Homo sapiens: one gene and its partners. The protein of the gene in region 2 interacts with the protein of the main gene of each other region in a pairwise test. Each region holds a gene or a part of one and is shown on either strand. Other genes may lie near its edges. The genes, in order: TSNAXIP1, ROPN1, AKAP7, XKR3 and KIF9.

The links.
Region 1: the proteins of ROPN1 (region 2) and TSNAXIP1 interact in a two-hybrid assay, tested with the Homo sapiens proteins (one large-scale study listed by BioGRID).
Region 3: the proteins of ROPN1 (region 2) and AKAP7 interact in a two-hybrid assay, tested with the Homo sapiens proteins (2 studies listed by BioGRID).
Region 4: the proteins of ROPN1 (region 2) and XKR3 interact in a two-hybrid assay, tested with the Homo sapiens proteins (one large-scale study listed by BioGRID).
Region 5: the proteins of ROPN1 (region 2) and KIF9 interact in a two-hybrid assay, tested with the Homo sapiens proteins (one large-scale study listed by BioGRID).

What each region holds. Positions count from the first base shown.
Region 1 is NC_000016.10:67,819,299-67,825,588, reverse strand, and holds part of TSNAXIP1 (translin-associated factor X-interacting protein 1), read right to left. Parts: intron 4,751-6,290; coding exon 4,638-4,750; intron 4,491-4,637; coding exon 4,364-4,490; intron 1,964-4,363; coding exon 1,870-1,963; intron 1,007-1,869; coding exon 810-1,006; intron 453-809; coding exon 317-452; intron 1-316. UniProt on the Homo sapiens protein: Possible role in spermatogenesis.
Region 2 is NC_000003.12:123,984,490-123,990,779, forward strand, and holds part of ROPN1 (ropporin-1A), read right to left. Parts: intron 1-6,290. UniProt on the Homo sapiens protein: Important for male fertility. With ROPN1L, involved in fibrous sheath integrity and sperm motility, plays a role in PKA-dependent signaling processes required for spermatozoa capacitation.
Region 3 is NC_000006.12:131,133,245-131,140,091, reverse strand, and holds the start of AKAP7 (A-kinase anchoring protein 7), read right to left. Parts: upstream 4,626-6,847; 5' UTR 4,599-4,625; coding exon of another isoform or gene 4,329-4,598; coding exon 4,310-4,328; intron 4,223-4,309; exon of another isoform or gene 3,250-4,222; intron 2,941-3,249; exon of another isoform or gene 2,390-2,940; coding exon of another isoform or gene 2,341-2,389; intron 1-2,340. UniProt on the Homo sapiens protein: Probably targets cAMP-dependent protein kinase (PKA) to the cellular membrane or cytoskeletal structures.
Region 4 is NC_000022.11:16,816,122-16,822,411, forward strand, and holds part of XKR3 (XK-related protein 3), read right to left. Parts: intron 5,579-6,290; exon of another isoform or gene 5,486-5,578; intron 1-5,485.
Region 5 is NC_000003.12:47,264,622-47,270,911, forward strand, and holds part of KIF9 (kinesin-like protein KIF9), read right to left. Parts: intron 2,643-6,290; coding exon 2,559-2,642; intron 2,448-2,558; coding exon 2,355-2,447; intron 1,257-2,354; coding exon 1,109-1,256; intron 1-1,108. UniProt on the Homo sapiens protein: Essential for normal male fertility and for progressive motility of spermatozoa.

The DNA of each region.
Region 1 (6,290 bases), on a different chromosome or scaffold from region 2:
TTGGGGTTCCCTGGTTCTTGCCCACAGCACTACCAGCCTAGGGTTTCAGGCTAAAGTCTAGAAGCCCAGGAAACTGAGTACCAGGCCTGTCCAGCCCACTGGGAGCCTAGGCTGCCTCAGCTACCAACTGTGTTCCTACAATTCTCAGTTCAACTCAGAAGATACACAGCCCTGCGGGAGGCAGGGACATCTCCCCTCTGAATGGTTATGGAATGAGCAGGTCTTAGGAATGCTGAATGAATGGGGCTTAGGGGTGAGACCAGAGTCTTCCAGCGTCTCAGAGAAGAGAGAAACCCGATTCCCAATTCAGGCTTACCTGGCGACTGGGCTAATGACATGTCCTCCCGCTGGTACCGCAGCTCATTCAGGTCTGCGATGAGGATCTTACAGGCATCTCGCTCACTGAGGTAGTGCAGGTACTCCTCAGCCAAGTTCTTCCTCAGTTTGGTCACCTGGCAAGAAGGTGGCTGTGTGGTCAGGGGCTGCCCCTGGACCCCTGTATGCAGCTGGTCACCCCAGGGAGTGGGCTGGGTTCTGGGGGGCCCCATCAGGGACTGTGAACAGGAAAGGTGAAAGAAGAAGGAGATTGGCCATTTCTGAGAATTCGGCAAGGTGCCAATGTTTCCCCCTGTGGGGAAAGTACTGAGCCTAGCAGCAGGGCAGAGGGTGGAGTTAGCAAGGCTCTGGGGGAAGGTGGTGGCTCAGTGTGTCACTCTCCGTAGAAAGGCAGAGCAGGGTAGGGGGTCACCCTTGTCGTGGAGTTGGCAGGAATTCGGGGACTTGGTCATCATCACACCACTTCCATTCACCTCGCTCTGCAATGAAATCTTCTCCTCATTCTTTTTGTCGATGAGTTTTAGCAAGTTCATCTTCTCTTTCTTGAGCAGGGAGATTTCATATTTCTCCTCAGCTCTCATGGCCAGGATCCTCTCATTGCAGTCCTCATTCACAGTGACAAGCTTGGCCTTCAGGGGCTCCAGAGCCCGAATCTTCTCCCTTTGGTGGGCTAAGCAGAGACAGGTGGGAGAGCTGCTTTGGGGCCATGGAGAACAAACAGCCAGAAGACACCCTAAGGTCATGGGTGAGTGGCTATGTCGCTTGCAAACCCCAAGAATCTCTGCATGCCTTGTTCAAAGCCATGGTCCCTGTTTCAGGCCTTCCTGCACTTGATTTTAAACAAAGGGCAGAGTTCAGATGAAGACCGGGGTCTCTCCTATGTCCTTTCCCCTACAGCCTTAAGTCCTGCAGCTGCACCATGCCCTGCACCTCCTGAGCCTGGCAGGGGAGCCTGCTGACTCCCAGAGGTGCTGACTCTCTCCTGGGGTTCACTCCATTTTCAACAGGGACTGCCCCCCTGTGCTTCTCAATGACAGGTGTTGTCAGGTGCTCTGGGGTGCCCTATCATGGAACAGTCTGTGCAGAATGGCTGAGGGGCCTTGGTGACCTCAAGGCCCAGTTGGTAGCTGCCCCAGCCCTGCTGTGGAGCACCAGAAGGTCGAATAGGATCTTCTCCACCCCTTCCAGGCTGGGACAAGGAGGGGAGCTGCATTCTTTTTTTTTTTTTTTTTTTGCGATGGAGTCTTGTTCTTTTGCCCAGGCTGGAGTGCGGTGGTGTGATCTCAACTCACTGCAACCTCCACCTCCTAGGTTCAAGCAATTCTCCTGCCTCAGTCTCCCAAGTAGCTGGGATTACAGGTGTGTGCCACCATGCGCAGCTAATTTTTTTGTGTTTTTACTAGAGACAGGGTTTCACCATGTTGGCCAGGCTGGTCTCAAACTCCTGACCTCAAGTGATCTACCGCCTCGGCCTCCTAAAGTGCTGGGATTACAGGCGTGAGCCACTACGCCTGGCAGGAGGTGCATTCTTACCCAGCATCCCCTCATACGCATTCTTGATGGAGGATAGTAATGGCTTGTACGTTTTGAAGTCCTCTATGAAGAACTCAAAGATCTCTCTGTAAGGCTGGCAAGAAAAGGGAACCCATCATCTCCTAGCCCACAGCTGCCAACCTTAGTGGGGAACTGTTTTTCTTTTTCTTTTTTCCTGAGACGGAGTGTCGCTCCATCACCCAGGCTGGAGTGCTGTGGTGCAATCTCAGCTCACTGCAACCTCTGCCTCCCAGGTTCAAGTGATTCTCCTGCCTCAGCCTCCTGAGTAGCTGGGATTACAGGCACGCGCCACCACACCTGGCTAATTTTTGTATTTTTAGTAGAGATGAGGTTTCACCATGTTGGCCTGGATGGTCTCGATCTCCTGACCTCGTGATCCACCCACCTCGGCCTCCCAGAGTGCTGGGATTACAGGTGTGAGCCACTGTGCCTGGCACTGTTTTTTTCTTTACTGGGCTTAGCAGTATTCCAGCATGAGGCTGCCAGGTCACTTATATTCAAGTAAATGCCCTAGATACCACCCGGGTACCTCACAGTGCCACGGAGCCTGGGGGGCAGCTCTCTGGAGGCCTGTCCTGATGCTGTCTCTGAGGCCTAGTGGACTGCCATGACCATAGACAGACATCCACTCTGTGCCTGAGCCCCTCTCTGGCTCTCCAGGCAGCCAGCCTCTTGCCTTCTAGACACTGCATCATTGGCCTCTCACTTGTAACCTCTCCCCATCTTAGAGCCTGGTAGATTCAGGAGATTGAAGGTTGTACCCTTGCATCCTGACATGCAAGTAGGGGTGTGGTCTTCTGTCCCATTTGGACACATGGGAGGTTTCTGGAGGCAGCATTGCTCACTGAAATGAGCACAGTCTCCAGAGTCAGCCCTGAGTTTGAAGCCCAGCCCCACTACGCCATAGTGGTATGCTTTCTTCCTTATCTGTTCAGGAGATCGATGTAAGGCCCCAGCCCAGGGCCTTGCACTTGCACATAGCCAGTGCTCAGTAAATGCTTTAGTCAATGACTAAGTCAAAAGGCAGGGATTCTCTGTCATCATCCTTGTTTAAGCAGATTTGGTGATTCTCTCCCTACTATACACTGGTATCTGGGTTGGATCTGATCTCTCTCTCTCTCTCTCTCTCTCTTCCTCCCTCCCTCCTTATGCATCTGTGCTGGTTCCTTAAGCTTGGGGTTGTTGCCACTGGACTGGTAAACACGGTGTGACCCCTGCTTGCCCAACTGCCAGCATTCAGGCTACGTTCACTGATGTCCAGTGGCCCAACCTGGGTACTGGGGATCACAGAGCTGCAGGGACTGGGCACAGCATCCAGGCCACCTGACTCAGGTGAGGAAACTCCAGCCTCAGGAGACTTTTGGATCCACATTGCAGCCTTGCCTGCTCACTGGCGTTTTCTTTTTTTTTTTTTTTTTTTGAGATGGAGTCTCACTCTGTTGCCCAGGCTGGAGTGCAGTGGCGTGAACTTGGCTCACTGCAAGCTCCGCCTCCCAGGTTCATGCCATTCTCCTGCCTCAGCCTCCCGAGCAGCTGGGACTACAGGTGCCTGCCACCACACCTGGCTAATTTTTTTGTATTTTTAGTAGAGACGGGGTTTCACCATGTTAGCCAGGATGGTCTCGATCTCCTGACCTGGTGATCCGCCTGCCTCGGCCTCCCAAACTGCTGGGATTACAGGTGTGAGCCACCGTGCCTGGCCTTCTTTTTTCTGTTGACAGAGTCTCACTCTGTTGCCCAGGCTGTAGTGCAGTGGCATGATCTCGGCTCACTGCAACCTCTGCCGCCTGGGTTCAAGCAATTCTCCTGCCTCAGCCTCCTGAGTAGCTGGGACTACAGGTGTGTACCACCACTGCAGGTTTTGTATTTTTAGTAGAGGCAGGGTTTCACCATGTTGACCAGGCTGGTCTTGAACTCCTGACCTCAAGCGATCCTCCTGCCTCAGCCTCCCGAAGTGCTGGGATTACAGGCATGAGCCACTGTGCCCGGCCTCACTGGCATTTTCATGGGATGTTTCATGCTTCTGTTCAGGGAAGGAGACCCAGGAGAGCTGGGAGAGGTGGGTCTCCCCTGAAGGTCTGAGGTGCTCAGTCCTTGTAGGTGAGGCTTTTTTTTGTTTTTGAGACGGAGTCTCACTCTTGTCGCCCAGGTTGGAGTGCAGTGGTGTGATCTTGTCTCACTGCAACCGCTGCCTCCCGGGTTCAGGGTTCAAGCGATTCTCCTGCCTCAGCCTCCTGAGTAGCTGGGACTACAGGTGCCCACTACCATGCCTGGCTAATTTTTGTACTTTTAGTAGAGACGGGGTTTCGCCATGTTGGCCAGGCTGGTCTTGAACTCCTGACCTCAGGTGGTCCACCCGCCTTGGCCTCCCAAAGTGCTGAGATTACAGGCGTGAGCCACTGTGCCCGGCCGGTAGGTGAAGCTTCTTCCCACCCTTCCCCCGCCCTCCCCAAGTTTCTTCTGTGGCTCTGACCTGCAGCCTTAGTTCCTGGGTGGAATCTGTGCCCAGGTCCAGCAGGAGGAGCTCCTTGCGTAGGTAGTTTTCCAGTTCCTCCAAGTACTGGGGCTTGGCAGTGCGAAAGGGGTGCTGCTGGCAGCTCCTGCAGGGGACAGTGGCTGATATGTGGCCAGCACCCCCACGGGGCCCTTGTGCCCTCAGTCTGGGGCAACACACGCCCCTGCCCTGTCTCCTGGCCCAAAGCCTGGCCCATGCCAGCTCACCCACCATGGGACTGACCCTGGCTTACCCTACTCGCTTCCGGTAGTCATCTGAACAGGGTTTTCGATTTTGCAAAATGGTCTGGCCACTGGTGTATGTGGGCCATGGGGACAGGTGCCCACCCATGGAGAACTGACCAGTCTGCAGGGAGGTACAGGTGGGGTTGCCATGGCAACATTGCTCCCCTTCCTAATGTTTCTCTCCATCTCTCCTCCCCCAGTCCTGACTTTTTTTTTTTGAGACAGTCTTGCTCTGTTGCCCAGGCTGGAGTGTGGTGGCACGATCTTGGCTCACTGCAACCTTCGCCTCCCAGGTTCAAGCTGTTCTCTGCCTCAGCCTCCCGAATAGTTGAGATTACAAGCACCCACCACCACACCCATCTAATTTTTGTATTTTTAGTAGAGACGTGGTTTCACCATCTTGGCCAGGCTGGTCTTGAACTCTTAACCTCGTGATCCACCCACTTTGGCCTCCCAAAGTGCTGGGATTACAGGCGTGAACCACTGTGCCTGGCCAGCCCTGATGTGTTTTACAAACATCTCTCAACATGGTTCATAATTAAGACTGTGGGTTCTTGAGTTAGAGAAGACTCGGGTTAAGTCTCAAATGTCCCTTATTAGCTATGTCACAACTTCTCTGAGCCTTAGTTCTCACGTCTGTAAAATAGGGATGATGGTAGTCTTTGTCACAGTGTATTGATGTGAGGATGCAGTGAGAAAGCATAGTCGGGCGCGGTGGCTCACGCCTGTAATTCCCAGCACTTTCGGAGGCTGAGGTGGGTGGATCACGAGGTCAGGAGATCGAGACTATCCTGGCTAACACGGTGAAACCCCGTCTCTACTAAAAATACAAAAAAAAATTAGGCCGGGCATGGTGGCTCACGCCTGTAATCCCAGCACTTTGCAAGGCCAAGGCGGATGGATCACGAGGTCAGGAGATCGAGACCATCCTGGTTAACACAGTGAAACCCCGTCTCTACTAAAAATACAAAAAATTAGCCGGGCGTGGTGTCGGACACCTGTAGTCCCAGCTACTCTGGAGGCTGAGGCAGGAGAATGGCATGAACCCAGGAGGCGGAGTTTGCAGTGAGCCAAGATTGCGCCACTGCACTCCAGCCTGGCGACAGAGCGAGACTCAGTCTCAAAAAAAAAAAAAAAAAAAAAATTTAGCCAGGTGTGGTGGCATGTGCTTATAGTCCCAGCTACTCAGGAGGCTGAGGCAGGAGAATCCCTTGAACCCGGGAAGCGGAGGTTGCGGTGAGCTGAGATTGCACCATTGCACTCCAGCCTGGACAACAAGAACAAAACTCTGTCTCAAAAAAAAAAAAAAAAAAAGAGGGAAAGCATAATGTGTGCTTCACATGGACCCTGGTACTTGCTAGGAACTCAGTAAAGATTAGCTATTCTGGCCGGGCACAGTGGCTCATGCCCGTAATCCCAGCAGTTTGGGAGGCCAAGATGTGCGACTTTTAGCACTTTGAGGCCAAGGTGGGCAGATCACTTGAGGTCAGGAATTTGAGACCAGCCTGGCCAACATGGTGAAACTCCATCTCTACTAAAAATACAAAAATTAGCCGGGCATGGTGGCACACGCCTGTATTCCCAGTTACTCGGGAGGCTGAGGCAGGAGAATCGCTTGAACTCGGGAGGCAGAGGTTGCAGTGAGCTGGGATCGACCCCTT
Region 2 (6,290 bases):
GCTCAGCCCCTTATCACCTATTGTGCAGCCTCCTGACTAGTCTCCCTGTCTCAGGTCATTCTCTGGCCTGTCCTGTTCAGTGTGTCCAGATCTATCTTCCAAGTTGCTTTTTATAGTCAGAGAGCACTGCTCACAAAATGACAATCATATCCTGACTTTCAAGGTTTTCTATGATTTGTACCTATAATTCTAAACTAAAAATTTTCCGCTACTCTTTACCAACACAAATTTCCTATACAGTCTGCTCTGGCCACTTTCCAAAAAAAAAAATTATATATCCAAAGCTTAACACTGTCTCGCCCACTGTTAACAGTAATCTATCCTTCTTTTCTCTCTTCCCCTCAGTATTTTGCTAATTCTAGCCGGCTTACTTGAAGTGCCCTTCTTCTTTCATCTGCTTAAACCCTATACTTCCCCAGGGTTTTTCATACTGTGCCATAGGCCTTCCTAGAAAACTTGGATATCATCAAATATTGTTTGTAGTATGCATATTACCACTCAATCCTCTTCTGCCTTTCATTGCTCTCTAAAGCTGAGCTCCCCACTAGAGGCCATGGCAGAATGGGCTACAGGTGTGCCATGAAAGATTGATGGTTGTAAACTTTTTATAGTAATACAAAATGTACAACCACTTACAAACTTACAACAGTTGAAATTATATTTGGATACTGTTTGGCACAGTCAGTAAACTTCCAGATTTCATTACCTATTGTTTCTGTGCCGAAGGTTTTATGTATAACACCTGCTGCCAGAGACGCCTTTATAGGGCTTTTCCTTTCAACCATCTTGTTAAAACAATCCCTGTACGTTGGATTATTACTTTAATTGCAATGCATTTATTATCAGTGACAATGATAATCTTTATGCATATGTGTTGCAAATACTTAGCTCTACTTTTGATTTAATTTTCTCTTATTTTTCACATTATTTTCTCCTAACAAAGAAGTTATATGATTTTTCTTCATCATCACCATCACCATCATCATCATCATTTGTCCCTAAGAAAACAGTAGATTTTGTTCACTTTTTTTCCCATTGTGACTTGATTTGTTTGTGACTTATTTATTCTTGGCTTTTGATGTTAAACAAATATCCAAAATCTGATACTTAATGGACTTTTGTAATGACTTGTTTGTTTACAAAAATAATAAACATTTGCCTCTAAAAAAATAATAGAAAATAATTTAATGATTTAGTAAAGGAGACTCTAGGCCTTCAGTAAAGTCTTATAAAAATATTTTTTGGCTGGGTGCAGTGGTTCACGCCAGTAAACCCAACACTTTGGGAGGCTGAGGTGGGCGGATCACTTGAGCTCAGTTCAAGACCAGCCTGGGCAACATGGTGAAACCCTGTCTGTACTAAAAATACAAAAATTAGCCGGGCATGGTGGCACATGCCTATAGTCCCAGCTACTCAGGAGGCTGAGTTGGGAGGATGAGGTTGCAATGAGCCAAGATCACACCGCTGTACTCTAGCCTGGGTGACAGAGCAAGACCTTGTCTCAAAAAAAAAAAAAAAAAAAAAAAAAATCAAAATATTTAAATTATACTTGAAATAAATGATATTTATATTTTGTGAAAATCTAGAATTGTAATTACTAAATTAAATAATGTTTCCAAAATTCCCCCTTTACTTACCAAATGCTTAAGTTTTCAAAAATTTCATGTGATTTATTTAAAAATATTCTTAAGGACAGCCATATTTTCTTTGAAAACTGATTTGTTGTAGTCAAAAAGGCCTATAGTCTCCTTAAGTACTTTATATATATTATTTACTTTCCATCATAAAAGGTAATTTAAAATTAAATATTAATAATTTTTATTAATATTATTACAAAAATGGTTTCCAAAGTCCTCAGGGACATACAAAAGTTCCTGAAATGACCACACAGTGGCAGAGGCAAGGCAGCTATTGTGGGGAGCAGGGGTCCCTGATGGAGACTGTGTGTGCTGTTGCACTGGAGGTGGTGTTGAATGGGGGTGGGGTGCTGGCCGGTGCAAGTCCAGGTGACTTCTCTGTGTCCTGCAAGCAGGGGTGGTTGCTTAGGGTGGAGGAGGATCTGCTGTTCTCTGCACAGTGTTAGCACGAGGGAAGGTGTTGGCAGGGGTGGTGCTTGCTGGTTCTGTACCCTCCAAGGCTCTGTCTGCAGTGGCAGTCAGTGGGGGTCAGCAGGGGTGGACTACACTCTTGTGTGCTGGCGGGGCAAGTAAAACAAAACCTGCCTGTGCAGACATGGGCCAGCAAAGTGATGTGGGTAGTTGTTGTGGGCTCAGGGAAGCTGTAGTATGGGGAGGGAAAGTACTGGCTGCAGCATGCAGCCATAGGGGCCACCTTGCTGGAGCTCTCCACTGATCAGGCATGGTCCACCAGTGCAGAAGCTATGGTGTGGACCCCCAAGGCACCTGAGACTGCCCTGTAAGCAGGCATGGCCAGGCTTGTGCCTGGAAGAGGCCAGCAGACCAAGGGGTGCTCAGATCAGACCAGCCCCATCTGATGAACAAGACCGCCCTGCAGAGATCAGGTCCAACAGTTCCCCTACAGCTAAAGTCTCTTATTGGAGCAAGTTGAGCCTAGTGGAATGGCCATCCCTGGCCATGCTGTACTACAAACACTCCCACACCAAACTCTCTGGGGTCCACATCAGCTGGCTTGCTGCCCTACTTCTCTAAGCAGCTCTCCCTGCCACCTCAAGTTTCTGTGGTGACTGAGGGGTCCCCTCCTTCCAGGGTTCCAGTGGACCCTGGTGAGAGCAGGTTGCTCCTTGCTAGTTCAACTCACTCGTTCCCCCAGAGCTGTTGTGGTTCAAAAATGAGCTTCAGTGTATGGTAGCCTGTATGGGGTTCCCAGCTTTCTCCCCCTTCAGCCAAGCTTCTGTGCCTTCCCTCTGTCCACTGTCTGTGCCTTCCCTCTGAAGACATGTTAAAAGCACTCCAGTCATCTCAGTTCCTCTGTGGGAGCTGTTCCACTTGTCTGCGTCTAGTTGGCCATCTTGCCCTCCAATAAAATTTCTTAACCACTCATGTTTTTACATAACTCTGAAAAACGTTTAATGGATCTTCATCTCTTTTCTTATAAAAATTATGCCCTGTCTGACTTTCAAGATCTCCCCAATTTGCCTTATTCGTATTAACTTTCCTTCTTCAACTGTGTTTCACAGAAGCCTGGATCTTTTTCTATCCTGAGACAAACCCATGGCCAAGTCAACACAGCATTTGGATGCCAACAGCAATATTGCTAAGAGCAGTCCTACTTGACCTTGTCCTTTTTTTGAGTAGTAGTTTTTGGCTTTATTAGCAAATTTCCCAAACTTGCTTATATATCATGCTAGTATTACCTCTTGAAAGCATGAGTTCTACATGTTTATTATTTAACAAATGAATAGGTACCTCTTTTGGTTTATCTAAGCCATGCTCATATTTCAAAGATTTCCCTCGTGTTCATTCGCATCATCATCCACAATTCTAGGGACACATGGCTCATTTACAGACTGGCATGTAAACTATGTCCTGTAAAGTTGTGCAACATGGTTCCCTGATTTGGGGACCTGGTGTACACACTTGGGTCACCTTAGCCCTGTCTTATATAAGAGTATGAAAGTCTTTATTAAGAGTAAGTGTCATAATACCCCACACCATTTTCATCTTTTACTTGTCCTTCCTACATTTTTTTTTTTTTAGATGGAGTCTTGCTCTGTCACCCAGGCTGGAATGCAGTGGCATGAGCTTGGCTCACTGCAACTTCCACCTCTTGGGTTCAAGCAATTCTCCTGCCTCAACCTCCTGAATAGCTGGGACTACAGGTGTGTGCTGCCATACCTGGCTAATTTTTGTATTTTTAGTAGAGACGGGTTTTCACCATGTTGGTCAGGCTGACAATCAGGTCAGAAGGACAATCAGAAGTTGTCCTTCCTACTTCTGATTTCATTATAGCATTCCTGTGAGTCAGAGATTTAAAACCTACAAGCAAGGGCTCTGAGGGGGTGAATGCACTATAGTTTCCAATATAAGATTAGGGCTATGTTTCTCTTCAGTTTCCATTACCATTCCTGATGATATTCAGCATTGCACTGGCCTTTTCCAAAGCAAAACATAGGGCTGCTATCCTTCGTAGCTAGTTGTGGCATAACATCTAGAGGGCAGATGAAGCTGTAGTGAAGAAGCACTCTTGACTGTGAGGCAGGAGTCCAGGATTTTGGCCCTGGGTCTATTTATGACTAATTATGTGATCCTTAGGAAATCATTAATCTGACAAAATTTATGTGTTTTATTGGAATTGTGCTGAATACTGGGATACATGAATAAATAAGTCACACACTCTGCTTCATGGAGCTCACAGTCCAGTGGAAGAGAGTGACAGGAAAATCAGTGACTCAAAGAAGGTATAATAAGTGTCAAGAAGCCTGCACTAGATATAGAAGAACAGAAGAAAAACAGAAGAAAAACTCTTGGATGAGGCATCTAACATCTGCAGGTATTAGAAGGAGGTCAGAAAATACTTTTCAAAGAGTGGTGATATCTGAGATATCTGAACTGAGACTTGGAAAAACCTGGTTTGTTCATTGCTGTACTGCAAGCCCTCAGAAGACAGCCGGGTACAGGGCAGGTATTCAGTAAGCATATGTGTACTTATGAGAGTAAGGAGAGAATTTCATGTAGGTAGAAGGACTTAGGCAAAGATGTGGGGTTGTCAGAAACGTGACAAGTTCAGGGAACTGTAATTATGGAGCTCTAAAGTGGACAAAGCAGGAGTGGTTGGGCCTAAGGCTGGAAATATAGCTCAAGGCTTGGGCTTTTGAACTTTTTGTTGAAGGCAATGGGGAACCACTAGAAAATTTAAGCACAAGAGTCACACAATCAGTGTTAGCTTTAGGTCCGGTTATCAATATTTGCCTCTCAGCTCCAAATTCACCTTGTATTGCCTCCTCCACAAAAATTGAACTAGGTCCTTTAACATTTTTTCCCTTGTCAGCTGTCATAAGGATATGCTTTGTTAGGACAGGGCACTGGAAGGACTGGAGGAGGAAGAGGTTTCTCTTAGGAATTTAGGTATGCTCTTCTTGCTAGGCTCCAGGAACTTGTAGTTTCTCCTATGCTGGGATCCTGTAGCACACAGCTTTTCTAGCATCTGTTTCATGCAGTGTGTGATCTTTTGAGTGCCCAACTGCTGGAGTACACAGTGGCTATCAGTGCTCCATGGCTAGCAGTGTCCCCTGGCACCTCTCTTGGGAAGCTCTATAGCAGAGTGCTGTCAGTGAGTTACCTTTTAGTGAATGGCTTCTCTGGTGTTTCAGAGAGTAAATTTTGCCTGCCTGGCACCTCAGCAATTTCTCTGCTCTCCAGTCAGCTGTGGCCATCCCCTATGCACCAAGCTCTGGGAAAGGTTTCTTCCTTGGGTGATCTATCTCAGGGGTAGTGGTTGCCCCTTATATCTGTGATTCCTGTATATTTTAGATCTCTCCTGACATATTAGCCAATCCTTCATTACTCCAATCCCATCATTAACAATTCTTTATATTGAACTTCTCTTGTTAAATTATATGCTCAAAAAATTACTATATGATTTATTTCTCTTTGTTGGACTCTGAAACACGTTGACTGACAGCTGTGTGGATGAGCTGAAGAGAGGATGGTGAAGCTTCAGGCAGGGAGCCAGGTTAGGAGAATATGGCAGCACTTTTGACAACTCCCAGGAGCTTCACTGCCTTGAAAAGTAGTTGCAATAGGGAGTGATATAAGAGACAAGTATTTAGGAGATAGGATCTACAGGATTTGGTAACTACTGAAGGAGGAGGAGGAGGAAGAAAAGAGGAGGTGGAGGAGGAGGAAGAAGAGAAGGTGGAGAAGGAGGAAGAGGTGAAGGACAGAAAAGTCTAGAGTGACTATCAGTTTTCAAGCTTGGATGACTGGGTGCACAGTGGTGGTACCCTTGTAGAAATAGAAAACACTAAAGGAGGGTCAGGTCAAATTATCCCCCCATGTTCCCATTTACTTTCAGGAGTTCCATGCACTTTTGAATCACAGAGTTGAAATCATAGACTCTCTGAGTTGAAGAGGCACCAAAGCCCAGCTTTCCTGCCTTTGGGCAATAAGGGTCATTTGTTCACATCAAAGAAGTGGGAGAAAGGTCCATTCTATCTTAACATTCCTCAATTCTAACATTTTGTAAAGTTATTTTCCATTTTTAAATCTCTTGATAGTGTAGGTCTTCTTCAATTATACATTCCAGAGCTTATCCATAACCCCAACTCTTTCAATTCAATGCATTTCCTCCTAAGTGAAACCTACATGCCT
Region 3 (6,847 bases), on a different chromosome or scaffold from region 2:
CACACCAGACTAAGAGATTGTGTGAACAGTTAAGAACAATCAACTTCAAAGTAAAACCTTAGATCAGACCTCTACCGTCAGGGAAAACCTTGCAGATCGCCAGCTCAGGGCTGAGTTAGGTAATCCAATCTTCTAGGCACCTAGTGCTTCCTCCAATCACTGCATGTATACTTTATGTTATACATGTCCGTTTATCTGTCTTATCCATTAGATTCTAAGGTAAAGTGACCATACAATTCACCAAACCAGGACACTTTTGAAAGTGAAAGGGACAACTTCCTATAACTGCACTCCATCATGTGTCGTCACCATAGTCGAAGTTCCTTAAAAGCCTTGTCTTATTCTCCTTTGATTCCTCCATGCCTAGCACTGAGTTCAGCTCACAATAGGTGCTCAATAAATTTTTACTGAATGAATAAATGTGATAAAGGTAAGTCCACATTTGAGAGTGGTTAGTAAGTCACTAGTAGCTAGTGTAGATAGCTACAATGCAATACAGCTATCTCACTGCCCATGAAAAATAATTCCTGGTATTTAGTGGCAGCCTCAGCACAACACAGATTCTCTCATTTTCACCAGATGAATAAAGGAAAAGTACTAGTATCCCATTTGACATGAAAATAAAAATTAAAGCATAATATAACTTGTTCAACATCATTCTTTACCTTGCTAAATAAAGCATATTAAACTCAAATGCAATGTTACATCAAAATCCACAGGAGTCTAGAACTTGAAATACAAACAACTATCTTCTCTTAAGCTATAGAATAATAGGAATTATTAACTCAACAATTTTTGAGATAGGAATTATTAACTCAAAAAAAAGGAGTGCCACTTTCAAATAAGTCTTGAAAGAACTGCTGGTCATTCTATAGAACAATGTTTCTCAAACCAAATATTTAGAACACTTCCTCCAGTTCTCTAAGCTCTAGTGTTTGGGCAAAGGTTGGTAGATGTGAATTAAATACACCAGTCATAACTACACTTTCTCTTATAGAAGGTATAAATATTTTGCTTTTGGAAAACTGCCTTAAAATAACCAACTCTTAAAGCATTTAAACTCTTTTAAGTTCATTGGGTTGAGTACTTAAAAGTCTCCTACAATTTGTTCTAACCATAGTTAAAATTCTATCTTTTGTATAAATCCAAATAAAAGTTATGCTTCCAAATGCATTAATAACATAAAGATGAGGTGAAGCTGGTAAACTATTAATATGTCTGTTACTACTACTAACAACAGCTAACATTTAAGTGCATGCTTGAAGCCAGGCACAGCTGGAAGCACTGGGAGGAACTCATTTAATCCACACAACCACACTATGGAGAGGTACTATTATGATGCTCATTTTACAAACTAACTGATTAAATAAGTACTTGCTCAAGGGTAAAACTAGTGGGTCTTGGGGCTGGAACTGGAATCCAGTCACTCTATTACCATTATGCCCTTTCTGGCACCACACACTGCCACCTTATTATACACTGACTATAGCAATGTAAACGGAGGCAATCCTTTCAGAAAGCAATCTGGCAATAGACCAGAAGCCACAGAAATATTCTTCCGATGTTCTTCTTACTGCTCTCTGGTTATCTATCATCCATGCTCAAAGATTCACCACAGCTTTATTTAAACAAAAAAGGAAAAGTGGAACAAAACTTAAATGCCTAATAACAAGGAAATGGTACAATAGCCAAGATTTGGAAGCAATTTAAGTGTTGGATAACTAAGGTTATCCAATGGAAAAAGGAAATATGGTACATATATACAATGGAGTACTATTCAGCCATACAAAAGAATAAGATCCTGTCATTTGCAACATGGATGGAACTGGAGATCCTTATGTTAAGTGAAATAAGCCAGGCATAGAAAAACAAACTTTCTATGTTCTCACTTATTTGTGGGAACTAAAATTAAAACATTTGAACTCATGGAGATAGAGAATAGAAGAATGGTTACCAGAGGCTGGGGAGGGTGGTGGAACGGGTGGGGGGAACATGGATGGTGACTGGGTACAATGAAATAGAAACAATGAAAAAAATAGGGAAACAGTTAAACGAAGCATGCTCGCGACAATGACAACTACGAACAATGACTATGAAGAATGCAATGACAGAAAAAAGCTAACAACAAATGCCAAGTTTTTAGAAAGGAGATATAAAATTGCATATGCTCTATGATTTACAATTATGTGGCCAAAGGCTAAACAGTATAAACTGCTTGTAAATGCTGACAACTATATTGAATATATTCATGTTTCTCATTTCTGCTATTCAAACGTTTCAAAATTGAATATTACCTAAGAAAAACAATACATACATTTTAAGTATATTATAAAACCATACCTTTAAATATATGCAAATATTCAAATACAGGTGAAGCAAATGCCTTCATCAAAAACAGGCCAACAGGGTGGGCCGGGTGAGGTGGCTCACACCTGTAATCCCAGCACTTTGGGAGGCCGAGGCAGGTAGATCACGAAGTCAGGAGATAGAGACCATCCTCACTAACACGGTGAAACCCCATCTCTACTAAAAATACAAAAAATTAGCCGGGCGTGGTGGCACACACCTATAGTCCCAGCTACTCGGGAGGCTGAGGCAGGGGAATCGCTTGAAGCTGGGAGGCGGAGGTTGCAGTGAGCCGAGATTGTGCCACTGCACTCCAGCCTGGGCGACAGAGCGAGACTCTTGCCTCTAAAAAAAAAAAAAAGAGAGAGAAAAGGGTATGGAGAGTTCTCCCACTGTCACACAAAATGCAGGTTTCCTAACTGGATAATAAATGACTACTCAATTTTGTGAAGTAAGTCTCTCATCACTCTACTAGGTAAATAGTAAATTTATCCCAGCTGAGCAAGTTGGCTCACACGTGTAATCCCAGCACTCAGAGAAGGACTGCTTGAGCCCAGGAGTTCAAGCCTTGGTGACATGGCAAGACCCCGTCTCTACAAAAAAAAAAATACAAAAATTAGTCAGGCATGTTGGCACAGACCTGTAGTCCCCGCTACTTGGGGAGGCTGAAACAGGAGGTTGGCATGATCCCAGCCGATCTAGGCTGCAGTGAGCCATGATCGCGCCAGTGCACTTCCACCTGAGCCAACAGAGGAAGACCCTGTCTCTAAATACATATATACATATATACATACATACATAAGTACATACATAAATAAGTTTATTCCTAAGAACAACTGGAAAGGGCTAAGGGCATCCATTCTAGTCCTGGCTTAGCTACTAAAAATAGTATTAGCATCTTACACGTTAGTAAATGTTGACAGCTGCGTAGAAATCAACAAGTTACTTGACCTCCAGGCTTTCCTTTCCTCCTCATAAAAAGGGAACAAAAGTAAAATCCAAATTATTAGGGAGAAATGGACAAAACAAGTTAATAGTGTCCGAAAATGGATGAAAGGAGGAAGTAACCTCCACAAACATCTTAAACTTTATGAGTAAGGAAAATATACAGATATGCTAACAGGATCCTGAATTGCAAAGCCACGGCACTTAAACAAGGAACTGGAGTATGGCTCTTTTCTCCTTAACAATTTCCATTCCCATGCATTTCCTAAATGCAAAAACTCACTGTCATCATTCACTTAACAATTGTCAACATATTCACACGATTAACTGCTATTTATATAGTACACTTTAACGTTTTTATGCTTTTTATACTCTTCTATGAGTTTATCCTATGAAACTCTTGCAGAGGAGCACCTTTTCTCTAATTGGTTTGCGGACCCTTTTACCGAAAGTCCACCCCTAACTCGCTCTATCACAAAGTTCAGTTCACAACAAACGCTGACCTAAACTGGAAATTCATTCCGGGCGCTAGTGTAGACTTGGCGCCAGTTTTAAAAGCGGTCATGTCCAAACCTGGCAGAAAATCCTAAATGAGACAGTATGGTGGTTCGGGTGCTTAATATTTGTGATATAAGATAAAATCGAAATTTTACTAGGTTTTGTTTACATTTACCCACATCAACACCGTCGGAAGGAATGTGTACTGGCATGAACTTTGTGCAAAGGGTCACAGGATGAGAAAGGGAGAAAGAAAAGTGAAACTCGGGGATGGGCTCATACCCCCGCCTCCTGTCGGACCCACAATGCGTGCATTAAAACGCTTCGCTACAGGCAGCACTGATGTACACCCCGGTTGCACCGGGCTTCTCGGTGCTACCCTGAGTCCTTTTGGGAAGGAGGGAGACTCGGAGAAGGGCCGGCGCGGGTCAGGCCCTCCCAAAGTTCGAGCGCAGAGCAGGCCCAGGCCCCCGCGGCTCCTGTCGCCCCCGCCCCGGCCCGCTGGACAGCCCGGTCTCACCCGCTTCGGGGCGCTCCATGGTCGCGGCGCATGCGGGCGGCGCGTCTGGGCTGGCGGCAGCGGCGGTGGCGGGCCGCGTCCCGGGGCTGGAGGCGAGGCCGAGGCGGAGGCCAGGGCGGGGCTCGGGGCCTGAGGGCGGTGCGCTGGGCCGGCGCGGGGTCCAGCGACAGGCTGCGGGGGCCCGGGCGGCGGAGGCCAGGCCTGCGGAAGCGCGGAGCTTCCCAAGCCGCAGCCCCCGCGGCAGCGGCAGCAGCGGCGGCGGCAGCCGCAGCAGCCGCAGCACCCGCATGCCAGGCCGGACGCCGGAACAAGCCAGAAGGGGCCGACCCGAGTCGCCGGTGGTACCCGGATTCGGGCGAGAGGCGCGGACGCGCTCGGGCAGGGCGGGGGAAACTAGGGCCGGCGACTGCGGCGTCACGGCAGCCCAGGTCGTCTCGACTCTGCAATGCGACGCTGGGTCTTCGCCTGCCTGCCGAGCCCCGCGGCCTCCGACGGCCTTTGGCAGCCCTCATTTATTTCCCGTGGCGCAGCCTTGCCCCTCCCACGCTTTCAAGGGCGAGATTGGGACTAGGATGAAAGAATTCTCTGGCCTGGTGTCTTTTGAGAATCCATGTGCTTAGTTTTGCAATCAGGGTTCTGATTGCAGAATATTTGGGAAGAGCGAAATGTACAAGAACGAGACCTTGTACTTCTGTATAATGAGATACTTTATTTACCTTACTTTTAAAAACTGCAAATTGTGACAAAGTCTCTAATTTTTAACAATGATGTTATGTTTAGACATTAAGAGGAAACCAGTTGCTGGTTCTTGTAGTATAAGGTACTGCAGTGAGTAAATTGGGAGAAAAAGAAATTTACTTAGTTTAAAAAAATAAAAACCTTTCACTTGAAACGGAATGCTATTGGGATTGGTTTTAGTGCGAAGAAACCAGGGGTTAAGAACATTAGGTGCATCCGTCCACAAATTAGCGCCTTTCGTGAATAATAACACTTCGCTTATGTTGAATGCATCGTAGAATAGGGATGGAAGAAAAGAAGACCCCTACACAGCCACAACAGCTGGCGTAAAGGCTGCACACTAGAAGTCGGCAAACTAGTTACTCTGATTTTCAAATAATTCTAACACGTTGAGTTTCTGATGCCCATTTATGGGCTGGTAGGAAAGTACAACCAGTTCCCCTAATATTTATTTAATGCTTGAGCTCTGTGCTGAGGATGTGCAGGTAAGACAGGTCTTTTACTTATGGAGCTGATCATATAATAGCAGAGAAAGAAACATAAGTAACTGCGGAAATAAAAGCTGCAAAAATGTGGTCCACATTCATAGTGAAGAGGATGAGAATATGCCACCCCAAATATGCCACTTCAGCATAAGGATTATTCTTGAGCTTAAAACAGTTCAGAAACTAAAGACTCAGGAACAACTTTGACCTCCCCCTTTCTGCCTAAAAGCAGGACATAAATTTCCCTTCGTAAAGGTGACATAAATTTTTATTTTTAAAGCTTTACCAGGCCGGGCCCAGTGGCTCACGCTTGTAACCCCAACACTTTGGGAGGTCAAGGCGAGTGGATCACTTGAGTCCAGGAGTTTGAAACCAGCCTGGGCAACATAGCAAAACCCTGTCTCTACCAAAAATACAAAAATTAACCAGACGTGGTGACCCATGCCTGTAATCCCAGCTACTCCAGAGGCTGAGGTGGGAGGATCGCTGGAGCCCAGGAGGTGGAGGTTGCAGTGAGCTGAGATGATGCCATTGCACTCCAGTGTGGACAACAGAGCCAGATCCTGTCTCAAACAAACAAACAAACAACAAAGCTTTACCACTCACCCATACCAGAAAGAGGAGAATGAGTCTTACCTGCATAACAAACCCATACATTTTCTAGTAACCTTCCCATACTGCAAAAAGGCTAAGCCCCCTTTTCCTTTGTCTAGCCTCTCCACACTTTATCATCGTTAAAATGGTATAGAAGCCCCCAGTTCTAACTGCCTCTTCGGGCTTTTAGTTCTTTCCTGTGAAGCATCTATGTGCATGTGTAATAATCCTTTTCTCGTCTTAATCTGTCTTTTGTCAATTTAATTTACACAGTCCAACCTAGTGAACTAAATGGGCAGGAGAAAGATTTTTCTTCCCCTGTGGTGTGTACCAAGAGATATATGGAAGTTTCATTCTCTTACCTAAGCAGAGGTAACAGCCCAAATGCCACATATTTTTCACCACCAGTATTATGAATACAGAGTCTTATCAACACCTACCATGTGGAGGAACATTTTAATTACCCAAGTCTGAAAAAGGAATTTTTCACAGAGCTTCTTTTAGAAATGACAGGGAGAAAGGGAAGTACAAGGTGAACCTTGGACATCTTCTTGTGCCAAAAAGCAAAGACAAATGGGGACTATCAAAAACACAAGGACTAGCGAGAAACAGCTTTCTTTGAGCAAATGGGAGATAATCTGACATCATAAAAGGATAACACCTGTAATTATTGTAACATACTGAATACAAAATCTATATACCCATAATAATACTCAAAAAA
Region 4 (6,290 bases), on a different chromosome or scaffold from region 2:
TATTTTAACACATAATTTGGAAGCATTTACATCTAATATGATTACTCTCTTATCTACATAATATCTGATTAGATATCTTTTTATTTACCCAAGATTTTCTGTCTCTGCCTTTGCCGCCTCTCTTTCAGCCTGTTGTTCAATCCCTCTCCCTACCCTGAACCTTTTTTTCTAATTGTATTATTTTTCTTGCAGAAATTTATTTTTTCCTGCTTTTGACATTAATTACCATATTTTTACACTTTCTGTAGTTATTCATTTTTTTGAAAAAATATTCATTTTTCCTGGTTTTGACATTAACTACCATATTTCTACACTTTCTGTAGCTAATCAAAAGGGCCCAGTTAGTTGATATTTTTTTCCTAAAAATGTAAAATGTATTTCTAGCCCCCACAAAAAAAAACCCACACAAATTCCTACGTACCATTTTAATTTTGATATTTGTTTTTGTCCCTGCTAAAAAATAAAAATAATAGGTTTTATACTTCTTTTCCTTTGGCTTTCACTAAGTCTTTAATATTTGCTTAATCTTTGTGAGTTGAAAAATGTATTTTTATTAAATGACAACTTATGTGGAATAATATCCAGTGTAGAATTTATTTTCATATTCTGCCTTTTGGCCCTTCTATACATGTTTTCCTTCTGGTGTATCTTGTAATTTAATATGAAAGTTGTCTACTCTGAGCTCAATTTTTATTAACTTATCTTTCATGTATGGTCATCAGATATAACATGGAATTCCCAGTTGCATTTTCATTTTAAATAAACAATAAATAGCATTTTAGTATAATTATATTCTCAATATTGCAAGGAAGAGACTCATACCAAAAATAAATTATATGTTGTTTGTCAGCAAACTATCAAATTTCAAAATGAAATGTGACATTTACATTTATGTATTTTCCCCCACAACTGGCAAACTTACTTTCAGATCCACTTAGAAAATTACTTATTCTTACTATATTTGTGCTGAATCTACTATACAAGAAACAAAGAAACAAAAATTTGTTTGACTTTTTACTATATGGTTCATTTTTCAATGAGATATAATTCTCTATTTAAAAAATTTATTTTTGTCCTCCTACTCACCTGTTTTGCCTTTAGATTCCATTTATTCATCTCAGAGAACACCAAAACCTACTTATTATGAAGAATCTTTAAATTCAACTTTTTATCCTTGAGTGTTCCCCTTAGTGTGTCTTTTTTGGCTGTTTCTTAGGGCATCGAACGTCCACCAATCAGTTTCTGCTTTTGAGGTAGTTATATCTTGTACGTAATATAAAAAATCTGACCTCAGTCTTGAATATCACATAGGATGGAGGTTGAGATATGAACTTTCCCCTCATGGCTTTGAATAAAAACCTCATTCTGTGTTAGATCCTAGTATCTGTGGTCAATGGCTTTCTATATTGGCTCAAATATTCCAGCTAAATGTCTAAACAACACTTTCTTTAACAAATTATTTAGGCAGGAAGCCAAACCCCACTGGACTCAGAAATGGTCTCTTCCCTGGGAATATATCCACATTTACTCCTCAGTTGACTATTTCAATGAACTATCCAGTTTATCCCAAATTAGTGATATTGGAGTTCAAATCTCACAGATGTTTTCTTTCTTGACAGCCATTTTTATTTTTTTAAAAAGAATATTATATTACACTTTTAATCTTTGGTTTTCATAATATTTGGTTTTGCAACTGCTCACATTGCCCCAGAGAACTAGAAACAAGTGCTTGATTTCAATTGAATTATTTGTTACTTAACAAATAAAACCTATGAAAAGCCATTATTACTATATCCCTTCTGCAGTTGAAAAAGAACATATTTTTGATAATATTTTCTGGAAGCACTGCCAACTTTATTTTTTTTCCAAAGTGTATGGCAGGTATTTCATCTGTTCTTCATTGACCTATATTATTTATATGCTATAAATCATTGGCTTTTTCACATATATTATAAAACTTCTTCGAGATTAATTTTGGTGAAAAGTTTATTCTATAAAATCACTTTATTATAGGTAAATCATATCATTTCATTCTCTGCAATCATACCTCCCCATGTTTTGCTTTATGAGATTTGGTTTGCTTTGTACTTTAAAGCCTTCCTCAAACTTTGACTTCCTAGGACTTCCAGGTACAATGCAACACCCCAGTGTTTCCTCTGAACAACTAAAACACCACGGACATAATGACAAGAAACAAAGACAGACTCTGAAAGGTCTTGTCTAGGGATTTCAGGACTTGAAGAGTGATACTATGGTAAAGATACTGGGTTTTCTTATTGCCTTCCATGTATCCCACATAATGGACTATAGAAGTTTCCAATTCTGAATCTCCAATAGGCACAGACAAAAAGAGCTTCAAGAAAATCCTGTTCTCTCGCAGCCCAAGGACCAGGAGAGGATAACCTAACTACAAACAACTACACAAAACCGTTCTATGGAGAATAACCAAACTACTCCAGACGAACACCACAGAAAAAAAACTACTACTTCAGTTTCTCTGCAGCCATGTACAGAGACAAGCTTCTCCCAGGTCAGTGATGCTCTGATTCCCTCTAAAGTCAGAGGAGGCAGCTAATCTTCTATTTCCCAACCAGCTAAAACAGAGGACAGCATTCCAATTCCAATTCCCTAACCAGTGTCAGCAGAGTCCAATAGCAAGCTGAGCACCCAGGTCCACCCAACAACAATAGTGGTTAAAGAGCCAGATCTAAGTAGAGATGATTGCACTGTGCTTCTTGACTGCTCTTTCCACTACCCTACCCTATTCTGTCAGTGGGCTCCACTGGGGAGTTAAGCATCTACCACCACCCAACCCCCTATCCTCTGAACAGTTGAAATGAATCTAAACTAGTCAGCAATCTGCTATTTCCCTATGCTACAGGTCAGGAGGACCCCAAATTTGCAACAGAATCATCCACAACTGCTCCAAAAAATGTGATATGCTCTGATATACATTAAAAAAAAACAGGTATGGGCTGGCTCTGTATGCTGAAACATATAAAACACTGGTGAAAGAAATCAAAGTAGTAATAAAGAAGGATACATTGTGTTAATGTATTGGAAGACTCAATATGTTGTGTTAATCTTCCCCAGCTTGATCTATATATTTGATGCAATTCCTATCAAAATCTCAAAAAGGATTTTTTGAGATAAAGCAAACTTACATCCTTGGATAGCTAAGACAATTTTGAAAAAGAAGTATATAATGGGAGGAATCTGTCAACAATGTTTTAAAGACTTATTACACAGCCAAAGTAATCATGACAGTGTGGTATTTGCCTAGGGATAGATTCATAAAAAATGTAGAAAAGGAAGCCCAGAAATAGAGTCACACTGATTTGAATATGATGCAATATCTCACAAAGCTGGCAAACACAAATCAGTGGAGGAAAAATAACCTTTTAACAAATTGTGCTAGGGCAAGTGGACATCCATAGGTTAAGGAAAAATAGCCTTAACATAAAACTCACCCTACAGAAATTAATGCAAAATGGTTCATGAACTTCAATGCAATCTGAAATTCTAACACTTTTTAGGAAACTTTAAAAAATAATAAAGAAAATTCAACCCTCTTAGGCGTGGCAAAGAGTTATTGGATTTGATACCAAAAATACAAGCCATGAAAAAAATCTGATAAATTAGATCAAATCAAAACTTAAAACTTCTGCTCTGTGAAATAACTTATGAAGAGACTAGAAAGCCAATGTGCAGATGGAAGAAAGCATATATGAAATGTGTACCCAATTACTATACCTAGGTAAAAATTAATTAGCTAATGAACAAAGGGTACAAAGACATTTCATTAAGAAGGATATAAGCATGGGAAATAAATGCACAAAAAGTCACTGAACATTACTAGCTACATCACTGCATCTATTAAAACACCTACAATTTTAACAAGTAATGACAACACCAAATGCTGGTGAAGATGTAGAAATAACAAGCCACTCATGCGTTGTTTGGTGGCATGTAAAATGGTAGGGTCAGTCCAAAACTGTTTGCCATGCAGCTGTCAGACAACCTTGCAACTCAGTGCAGTTATCCTACAGAAAATAAAACTTACGCAAAAAAACTGTACATGAAGGTATAAGGCAACTCAACTAAGAACATCCCTTGTGTTCTTCAATTGTGAATGTTCAAACAAGCTGTGGTACATTTATACCATGGGTTGCTACTCAGCAATAAAAATGAAATAGACTATTAGCAGGTATAATTGGAAGAATCCCAGGGAGTTAAACTGAGTGAGGAGTCTTGGCAGGGAAGTGTTCCTCCTGTTTCTGCCACACTATGCAACACAGGGAGATGGAAACAGATCTACTGACAAGTAAAATGACATGAATGTTCATACTCCTTTTGCTGGATTCCTTCATATTTAACATGGACCTGGGTGCTGCAGCTTCTCAACTGGTCTCTGGAGCTCTCACAAAGGTATTGTGGTCCAAATATTGTTATTAATTCACTGACTCTGTGAAGGCATGAAGGCCTGACACTTCCTAGTACGCCATCTTGTTGACATACATAGTCTCCATCTCCAGTACACAATACAGAGACCATTCTTTCATTCAATCACTTACTATGCTTACTTAACAAAAAAACAGTTGCATAATATCTAAGAAATGACAGAGTAATCAGGAAATAATTGTGATGACAGGTAAATAATATATTCATTTTTTAAAAAAGATTTGATGTTACCCCTGAAATGTCATGCACAGTTATAGATGAGAAAGCAAACCTAACAGATGCTAGAAATAGGATGACTGTTTCACGATCTCTTGTAAGTTATAACTCCTTCATGAATACCCCTCTTTTGTGATAGAATACCCTTTTTCCCATTTGAAAACTAAAACACAAACTATTATCATCCATAAAACAATTATGACTAAGACAAACAAGATATATGACTGACATAGATTTCAAGTAAATGGAAATATTATACAAAGATGTTAGAGTTAAGTCTTCAACTCTGATGTTATCTGATGCTCAAATTTAAGACTAATAATATTAAGCAATATCTTCATGTTTAAGAGTCACAAATCAGACTTTCAACCCACAATTTAAAAATAAAATGTAATTTTCTATGATAGCATTGACCTTAACTGAAAAAATGTATATATCAAAGCTGTTAAGCAACTTTACTTGCTTTCCTTCTAGAAAGCTCTATTATGACAGTACAGCCAAACTTAAGAAAAATATCAATAGAAAGAATACTTAAAATAATTCTAACAGATTATCTTAAGAGTACTATAGAAGATAAACAAAGCATCTCAAAAATCAGGAGCCTAATTATAAGGAGTATTTTTATTGGTTACTGTGTTTCAAGTACCTGGAAACAGCTGCAACTTTGTACACAAAGTGAATTTGCTTTCCAGGTATATTGGCAATAAACAGGTACAACTGATGAGAATTTTTTTTTTCATTTGTTGAACAGTAATACTCAGCAAGATTTCGAAGGTAAAAAAATAAACACAGCAGAATTTTTTTTTACCTTATTTTTTCTCGCTTCCTTGATGCTAATACAAGAGACAGTGGGAGGGAGTTTCACTGATACGTTCTGCATCAGAATTTAGAATTTCAAAAGATTTTGTTACAAGAATAATCAGAAGAATTAGATTCTAACTCTGTAGGCAGCAGGTATCTAGGAAACCTCGTGCTTCAATTTCATATAAATTGAATTTACACTACATCTTTAAATTTTTTGGACTTCAATATGATTATTTTATGTGAATTTCAGTTCAAACAAACTATGCTATAGCTGTTACATGGAGTTACAGTTTAGTTTTATAACATACTCGTTCTGGGCATTTATTTTTATTATTTTTTGCCACCTAATAAGAAATTTTAAAATCACTATTAAAAACTTTAATAAATACATGACATTCTTACTGTATCTACAAATTAATTTATCAAATGGCTGTGATAGGTGCCACAAAGATATAATAGATCTTATAAAATGACAAAAACTGAAAATGGCAATTTTGTATGTTAATTTTAGACTTTTTTCTTTAATCAAATCTTTGAAAAATGCAATTGACTGTTGAAATAATAAAATATTGTGGTTATATAATTTTAAAAATGCATGTAGCACAGAGGCTGAGAGGGGATAATGGTACATGTTATTTTAGTGTTTTAACATTGTCCATAGAGAAGTGTAATACCTCTTCAAGGTAGGTTGTGGTAAATTTGAGATGTACACTACAAACCTCAAAGCAAGAACTAAAGTAACAGTAACAGCTAAGAAACCAACAAAGGCCATAATAGGAAATTAAAAAAATAAATAAATAATAGAAAAG
Region 5 (6,290 bases), about 77 Mb from region 2:
GAGATGAGGTCTTGCTATGTTGCCCAGGCTGGTCTTGAACTCCTGGCCTCAAGCGATCCTCCTGTCTCAGCCTCCCAAAATGCTGGGATTACAGGTGTGAGCCACCACACCTGGTCAAGACTGAATGTTTTTGTCCTTATAAAATTCATATGTTGAAGTTGTAACCCCGACGTGATGGCATCTGGATGGAGGACTTGGGGAGGGGGAGGTAATTTGGTTTAGTTGAAGTCAGAGGGTGGGGCCCCCATGATGGGGTTAGTGTCCTTATAAGGAAAGAGACCAGAACCCTCTCTTTCTTTCCATGTGAGGATACGCGAGAAGGTAGCCATCTGCAAGCCAGGAGGAGGGCCCTCGCTAGGCATTGAATCTGCTGGCACTTGAATCTTGAACCTTCCAGTCTCCAGAACTATGTGAAATAAATGTCTATTGTTTAAGCCACTTAGTTTATGGTATTTTCTTATAGCAGCCTGAACTGAGACAGGGTCAGAGAGGACACACACATCTGTGAGGCTGGGAGGTAAGGGGAAGAGAGAAAGAGAGGCCACCACATGTACCTAAAAGAGGATCCAGGAGAAAACAGCAGAGGAGAGATGATACAGGGCAGGGAGGGGCAGGGACAGGAGAGGGAGGTATGAGTTGGAGCTTTGCTCAGGGTGGCACTCAGTTAACAATCAGACACTAGTGACTGTGTTGTCAGGCTCAACACAAAGGCCTAGGGCTATGGGGATGATAAGACAAAGCCCCCGCTGCTCTGTACAGGAGGCTGCAGGGGAAGGGAAGACACCATGGGAGAGAGGCCCTCGCCCCAAGTCTTCAGGCTGTGAAGGATTCTGCCAGCTGTCTCCTCAGGACAAGAGGAAAAGAGAAGGTATTCCTAGCACAGGTAAAAAGCCTAAGGAAGGTTCTGAGGAGTGAATAGCATAGTGTGTTCTGGGCACAGTGCTTGATTCTGCCTTTCCAGGTGTCTGAAGTCACTGTGAATGTGCTGCAGGTGAATCCATGCCACCAGGAGGGAGCAATTCTATCATCACCAGTGGCAGATGTGCCAAACCTGTCCCTCCCCAAAGACACAGACCCTCCTCCCTGGGCAGCAACTGTACCCCCTCACCTAACGAGTCCTTCAGAGCGTGGGTGAGCTTGCACTGCCGAAAGGGGATGTGGTCCCGCTTCTGGTCCCCAAGGGCAATGATGGCCTGCTCCAGGAATGAGAGCGATTTGTTGATGTAGGTGGCTTCCTTCAGGACTTGGCCCTCAGACTACAAAGCAAAGGTCAGTTCCACTTTGGATGGAATAAAGCAGCTGCCCCACTAAGAATAGCAGTCTTCCTGGTCTGGAGAAATGCTATAAGTCTGTGGTCAGGTCAGCGCCTCCTTCCCAGAACCAGGGTCTTCTTTCAATGTCATGCGATTGTATTCCATCTTGGGCTAATAATGGTAATACCAAAACTCAGAAATATTCATGTGAACACTCATGTGAATACTCATGCGAATGTGAATGCTTACATGAATATTCATATGGACATTCACTCAAAGATTCACACTAATATGAATATGTACTGAAATACTTGTCTAGATATTTGAGCAAAGAATCCTGTGAATATTCACACAAACACTCATGAATGCACATACAAATGCTCATCTGAATACTCTTGTTAATACTTCTGCTAATACACTCATACAAATATTTATTTGAAATACTCATGCAAATACTCATACGAATACTCATATTCATTCACAAAGAAGCCAGGTGTGGTGGCTCACACTTGTAATCCCAGCACTTTGGGAGGCCAAAGCAGGAGGATCGCTTGAGCCCAGGAGTTCAAGTTCAGCCTTGGCAACATAGCGAGACCCCGTCTCTACAAAAAAATTTAAAAATTAGCTGGTCATGGTGGTGCATACCTGTGGTCCCAGATACTTGAGACACTGAAGTGGGATGATCACTTGAGCCTGGGAGGTCAAGGCTGCAGTGAGCTGTATTTGTGCTACTGTACCCCAGCCTGGGAGACACGGCGAGACTGTGTCTCAAAACAACAACAACAAAAACACACACAGAGAAATGCTATACCAGCAAGGAATATTTACTGAGCACTGAGTGCCAGGCACTTTGCTAAGAATGTAGAGGGCACTATCTCATTTAATGTTTACAAAAATCCTCTGAGGTAGGAACCGCCCCCAGGTAATAGCCGTTCCCTTTTTGCAAATCCTGTCCCTCCAGCAAGCCCACATGTCCCACTTCGCCTAGCTCAGGACTGTGTTCACAAATATCCAATGAGTCATGGCCCAGATGTGCAGGCACTGTGCCAGAAAAAGGGCTTGTGGTTTATTGAGTAGCAACCTCCAGCCCCCATCACTTACCCCAGACTTCCCCAGCCTCTCTGAGCCTGCCAGATCCACCAAGTTAATTTTGGAAGTGATGTACTTTTCCTCTGATAAGGTCCGGGAATGGGCCTACAAAACATCCAAGCAGAAGTTAGACTGTCACAGGGAGAAGTTTCTGACTGAGCAGGCCCCGTGGGAATTGACTGCCCCGCCTGGGCTGATCAAAGAGCTTGCACCTACCTCTAAGTAGATGGTGAAAATGCAGTGTGATCTGGAAGAGTTTTTGTTCATAGTGTGGGAGGCTATAATCCTGTTGGTCTCACCCTGAAGAGGAAGGGAATCATAGGCAACATTTCGAAAAACTAAAACGACAAGGCACTTGGGTCATTTTTCAATTATACCAATAGCTACACAAGTGGTCTCATATCACTGCGATCAGCTGGGCCTTCCAGGCAAACCTCTTTTATAAACTAATAGAAAGGGAGTCAAATTGGAGTCCACATCTACACTTTCACCCGCCGCTGGGGAAGTGTGAATTGGTATAGCTTTCTGGAAAGCAAAGTGACAATAAAAATCAAGAGCCTTAAAAATGTTTATGAATATTGAATCAGAATCAACCTGCATGTCCAACAATTTGGGAATGATCTATGTATACAGTGGGATATTGGGCAGCCAGGAAAATGCTGACACATAGTTTTTAATAACAGAGAGAAATGTAGAATCCAAAATCATATTATAGCTGATCTAAGAAATGCAAAAGCATTCATAGAAGAAATAAGCAGAATTCTGCTAATAAGATGTTAATAATAGTTGCTTCTGGGTTGGGGTTTATAGGTTATTTTATCTTTTTTATACAGTTTTGTGGGTTTTTTTTAGTGAGCATGTATTACTATAAAAATAATAATTTATATTTTTATTTATTTTGTGTTCTCCTTTTTTTTTTTTTTTTTGGGAGAGCATCTCAGTCTGTCACCCATACTAGAGTGTGGTGGCACGATCTCGGCTCACTATAACCTCTGCCTCCCGGGCCCAAGCCATCCTCCCACCTCGGCTTCCTGAGTAGCTGGGACTACCAGCGTGCACTACCACACCTGGCTAATTTTTGTATTTTTTGTAGAGACAGGGTTTCACCATGTGCCCAGGCTGGTCTGGAACTTATGAGTTCAAGAGATCTGCCCGCCTCGGCCTGCTACAGTGCTGGGATTACAGGCATGAGCCACTGTGCCTGACCTAGTAATTTGTATTTTTAAAGGGACAGTAGGCCCTTACCTCTAATTTACAGGAGGAGGCCTTATGACCAGAATATACTTAAAAAGGAATTTTTTGTAGAGACAGGGTGGTGGTGTGGTGGAAATGGCTGTTCTTGGAGAAAAAGGTCCTTGAGGGATAGACTGATGTCTCCTTAAATGCTGATGAGAAGTGCTATGAACAAGCCCCAAAGTGAGGGTGGGGGACAGCCCCCCCTGGGGAGAGGAGAGCACCCGCTGAAGAGGGAAGGCCTGAGGCTGTGGAGCAAGCCTAGCAGACTCCTGTGGCCATACCTCTATAGCTTATAGTAGTGAGGCTATAGTCTATGGTCAGGCCTGTTCTACAAATCCAGTGACACTCACCAAGAATATAAGGGGTCACTTCATTTTTCTTCTTCTTTTTTTTTTTTTTTTTGAGATCATTCTCACTCTGTTGCCCAGGCTGAAGTGCAGTGGCGTGATGTTGGCTCACTGCAACTTCTGCCTCCCGGGCTCAAGTGATCCTCCTACCTCAGCCTCCCAGGTAGCTAAAATCACAGGTACAGGCCACCATGCCAGGCTAATTTTTTATATTTTTTTGTAGAGACAGGGTTTCGCCATGTTGCTCAGACTGGTCTTAAACTCCTGAGCTCAAGCAATCCTCCTGCCTTAGCCTCCCAAAGTGCTGGGATTACAGGCATGAGCCACCACAGCAGGTCATTCACCTTTACTCTTCAGTCCCCCTTCTGAAGTACCCTCTTGCCTTGTCTTTCTTTTTTTGTATTTTTAATAGAGAGGGGGTTTCACCATGTTGGCCAGGCTGGTCTCGAACTCCTGACTTCCAGTGATCCGCCTGCCCCGGCCTCCCAAAGCTCTGGGATTACAGGTGTGAGACACCGCGCCTGGCCTTGCCTTGTCTTTCTGGCCCTTTAAAAAAGATCCTGCTATTGACGTTGAGGAAGTAAGTTGCTATGTTGTGAGAAGGCACTATGATCATGCCTGTGAATAGCCATTGCACATGTGCCCATTGCCTGGGCAACACAGCGAGAACTTGCATAAAAAAATAAAGAGTTCCTAGCCTATATGACTTCTAAAAGAATAACATACACTTGACTGATTTCTTTTCTTGTTTTTGAGACAGAGTGTTGCTCTATTACCCAGGTTGGAGTGCAGTGGCATGATCTCAGCTTACTGAAACCTCTACCTGCTGGGCTCAAGTGATTCTCCCACCTCAGCTTCCCAAGCAGCTGGGACCACAGGCATGCGCCCCCATGCCTGGCTAATTTTTGTATTTTTGGTAGAGGTGGGGTTTCACTGTGTTGCCCAGGCTGGTCTTGAACTCATGAGCTCAAGTGATCCACCCGCCTTGGCCTCCCAAAGTGCTGGAATTACAGGCGTGAGCCACTGTGCCAGTGCATTTGACTGGTTTCTAAGAGCCTTTATTTTATTTTTTTGAGATGGAGTCTTACTCTATTGCCCAGGCTGGAGTGCAATGGCTTAATCTCAGCTCACTGCAGCCTCTGCCTCCTGGGTTCAAGCAATTCTCCTGCCTCAGCCCCCCGAGTAGCTGGGATTACAGGTGCCCACCACCACTCCCAGCTAATTTTTTTTTTTTTTTTTTTTTTTTTTGAGATGGAGTCTCCCTCTGTCGCCAGGCTGGAGTGCAGTGGCACAATCTCAGCTCACTGCAACCTCTGCCTCCCGGGTTCAAGCTATTCTCCTGCCTAAGCCTCCTGAGTAGTTGGGAGTTAGCGCCACCACATCCAGCTAATTTTTGTATTTGTAGTAGAGACGGGGTTTCACCATGTTGGCCAGGATGGTCTCAATCTCCTGATCTTGTGATCCGCCTGCCTCCGCCTCCCAAAGTGTTGGGATTACAGGCATGAGCCACCGTGCCCAGCCTAATTTTTGTATTGTTAGTGGAGATGAGGTTTCACCATGTTGGCTAAGCTGGTCTCGAACTCCTGACCTCAGGTGATCCACCCACCTCAGCCTCTCAAAGTGCTGGGATTACAGGCATGAGCCACCGCACCTGGCTCTAAGAGCTTTTGTATAGTAAGGATGCTAATTCTTATTTTTCTCTTTTTCTTTTCTTTTTTTTTTTTGAGAAGGAGTTTTGCTCTTGTTGCCCAGGTTGGAGTGCAATGGTACGATCTTGGCTCACTGCAACCAGTGCCTCCCGGGTTCAAGTGATTCTCCTGCCTCAGCCTCCCTAGTAGCTGGGATTACAGGCACCCGCCACCACACCCAGCTTATTTTTTGTATTTTTAGTAGAGATGGGGTTTCACTATGTTGGCCAGGCTGGTCTCAAACTCCTGATCTCAGGTGATCCACCCACCTCAGCCTCCCAAAGTGCTAGGATTACAGGCATCACCCACTGCACCCGGCCTTATTTTTTTCCATACAAGAGCTCATAATTTAACTGAAAAAAGGGACATAAGAATCATTTCAACTATGTAAAGAAAAAGCTGCACAGGAAAAAAGACTGGAAGGAAATGAGCTAAAATATACATTATTGTTGCCTTATGTAAAAAACAGATTATGCATGAATCATTTTTTCTTTTTATTTACGTAACAGGAAAGGAAGAGGAAATAAAATTCTTTTTTGTTCCTTTTTTTTTTCAGCACTATCTGAACTTGCTAAATGTGCATATATTAATTTCCATTCTGATAATCAAAGTAAGTAAAAAACTAGCTGGACACAGTAGCTTGCCTGTAATCCCTGCACTTTGAGAGGCCGAAGTGG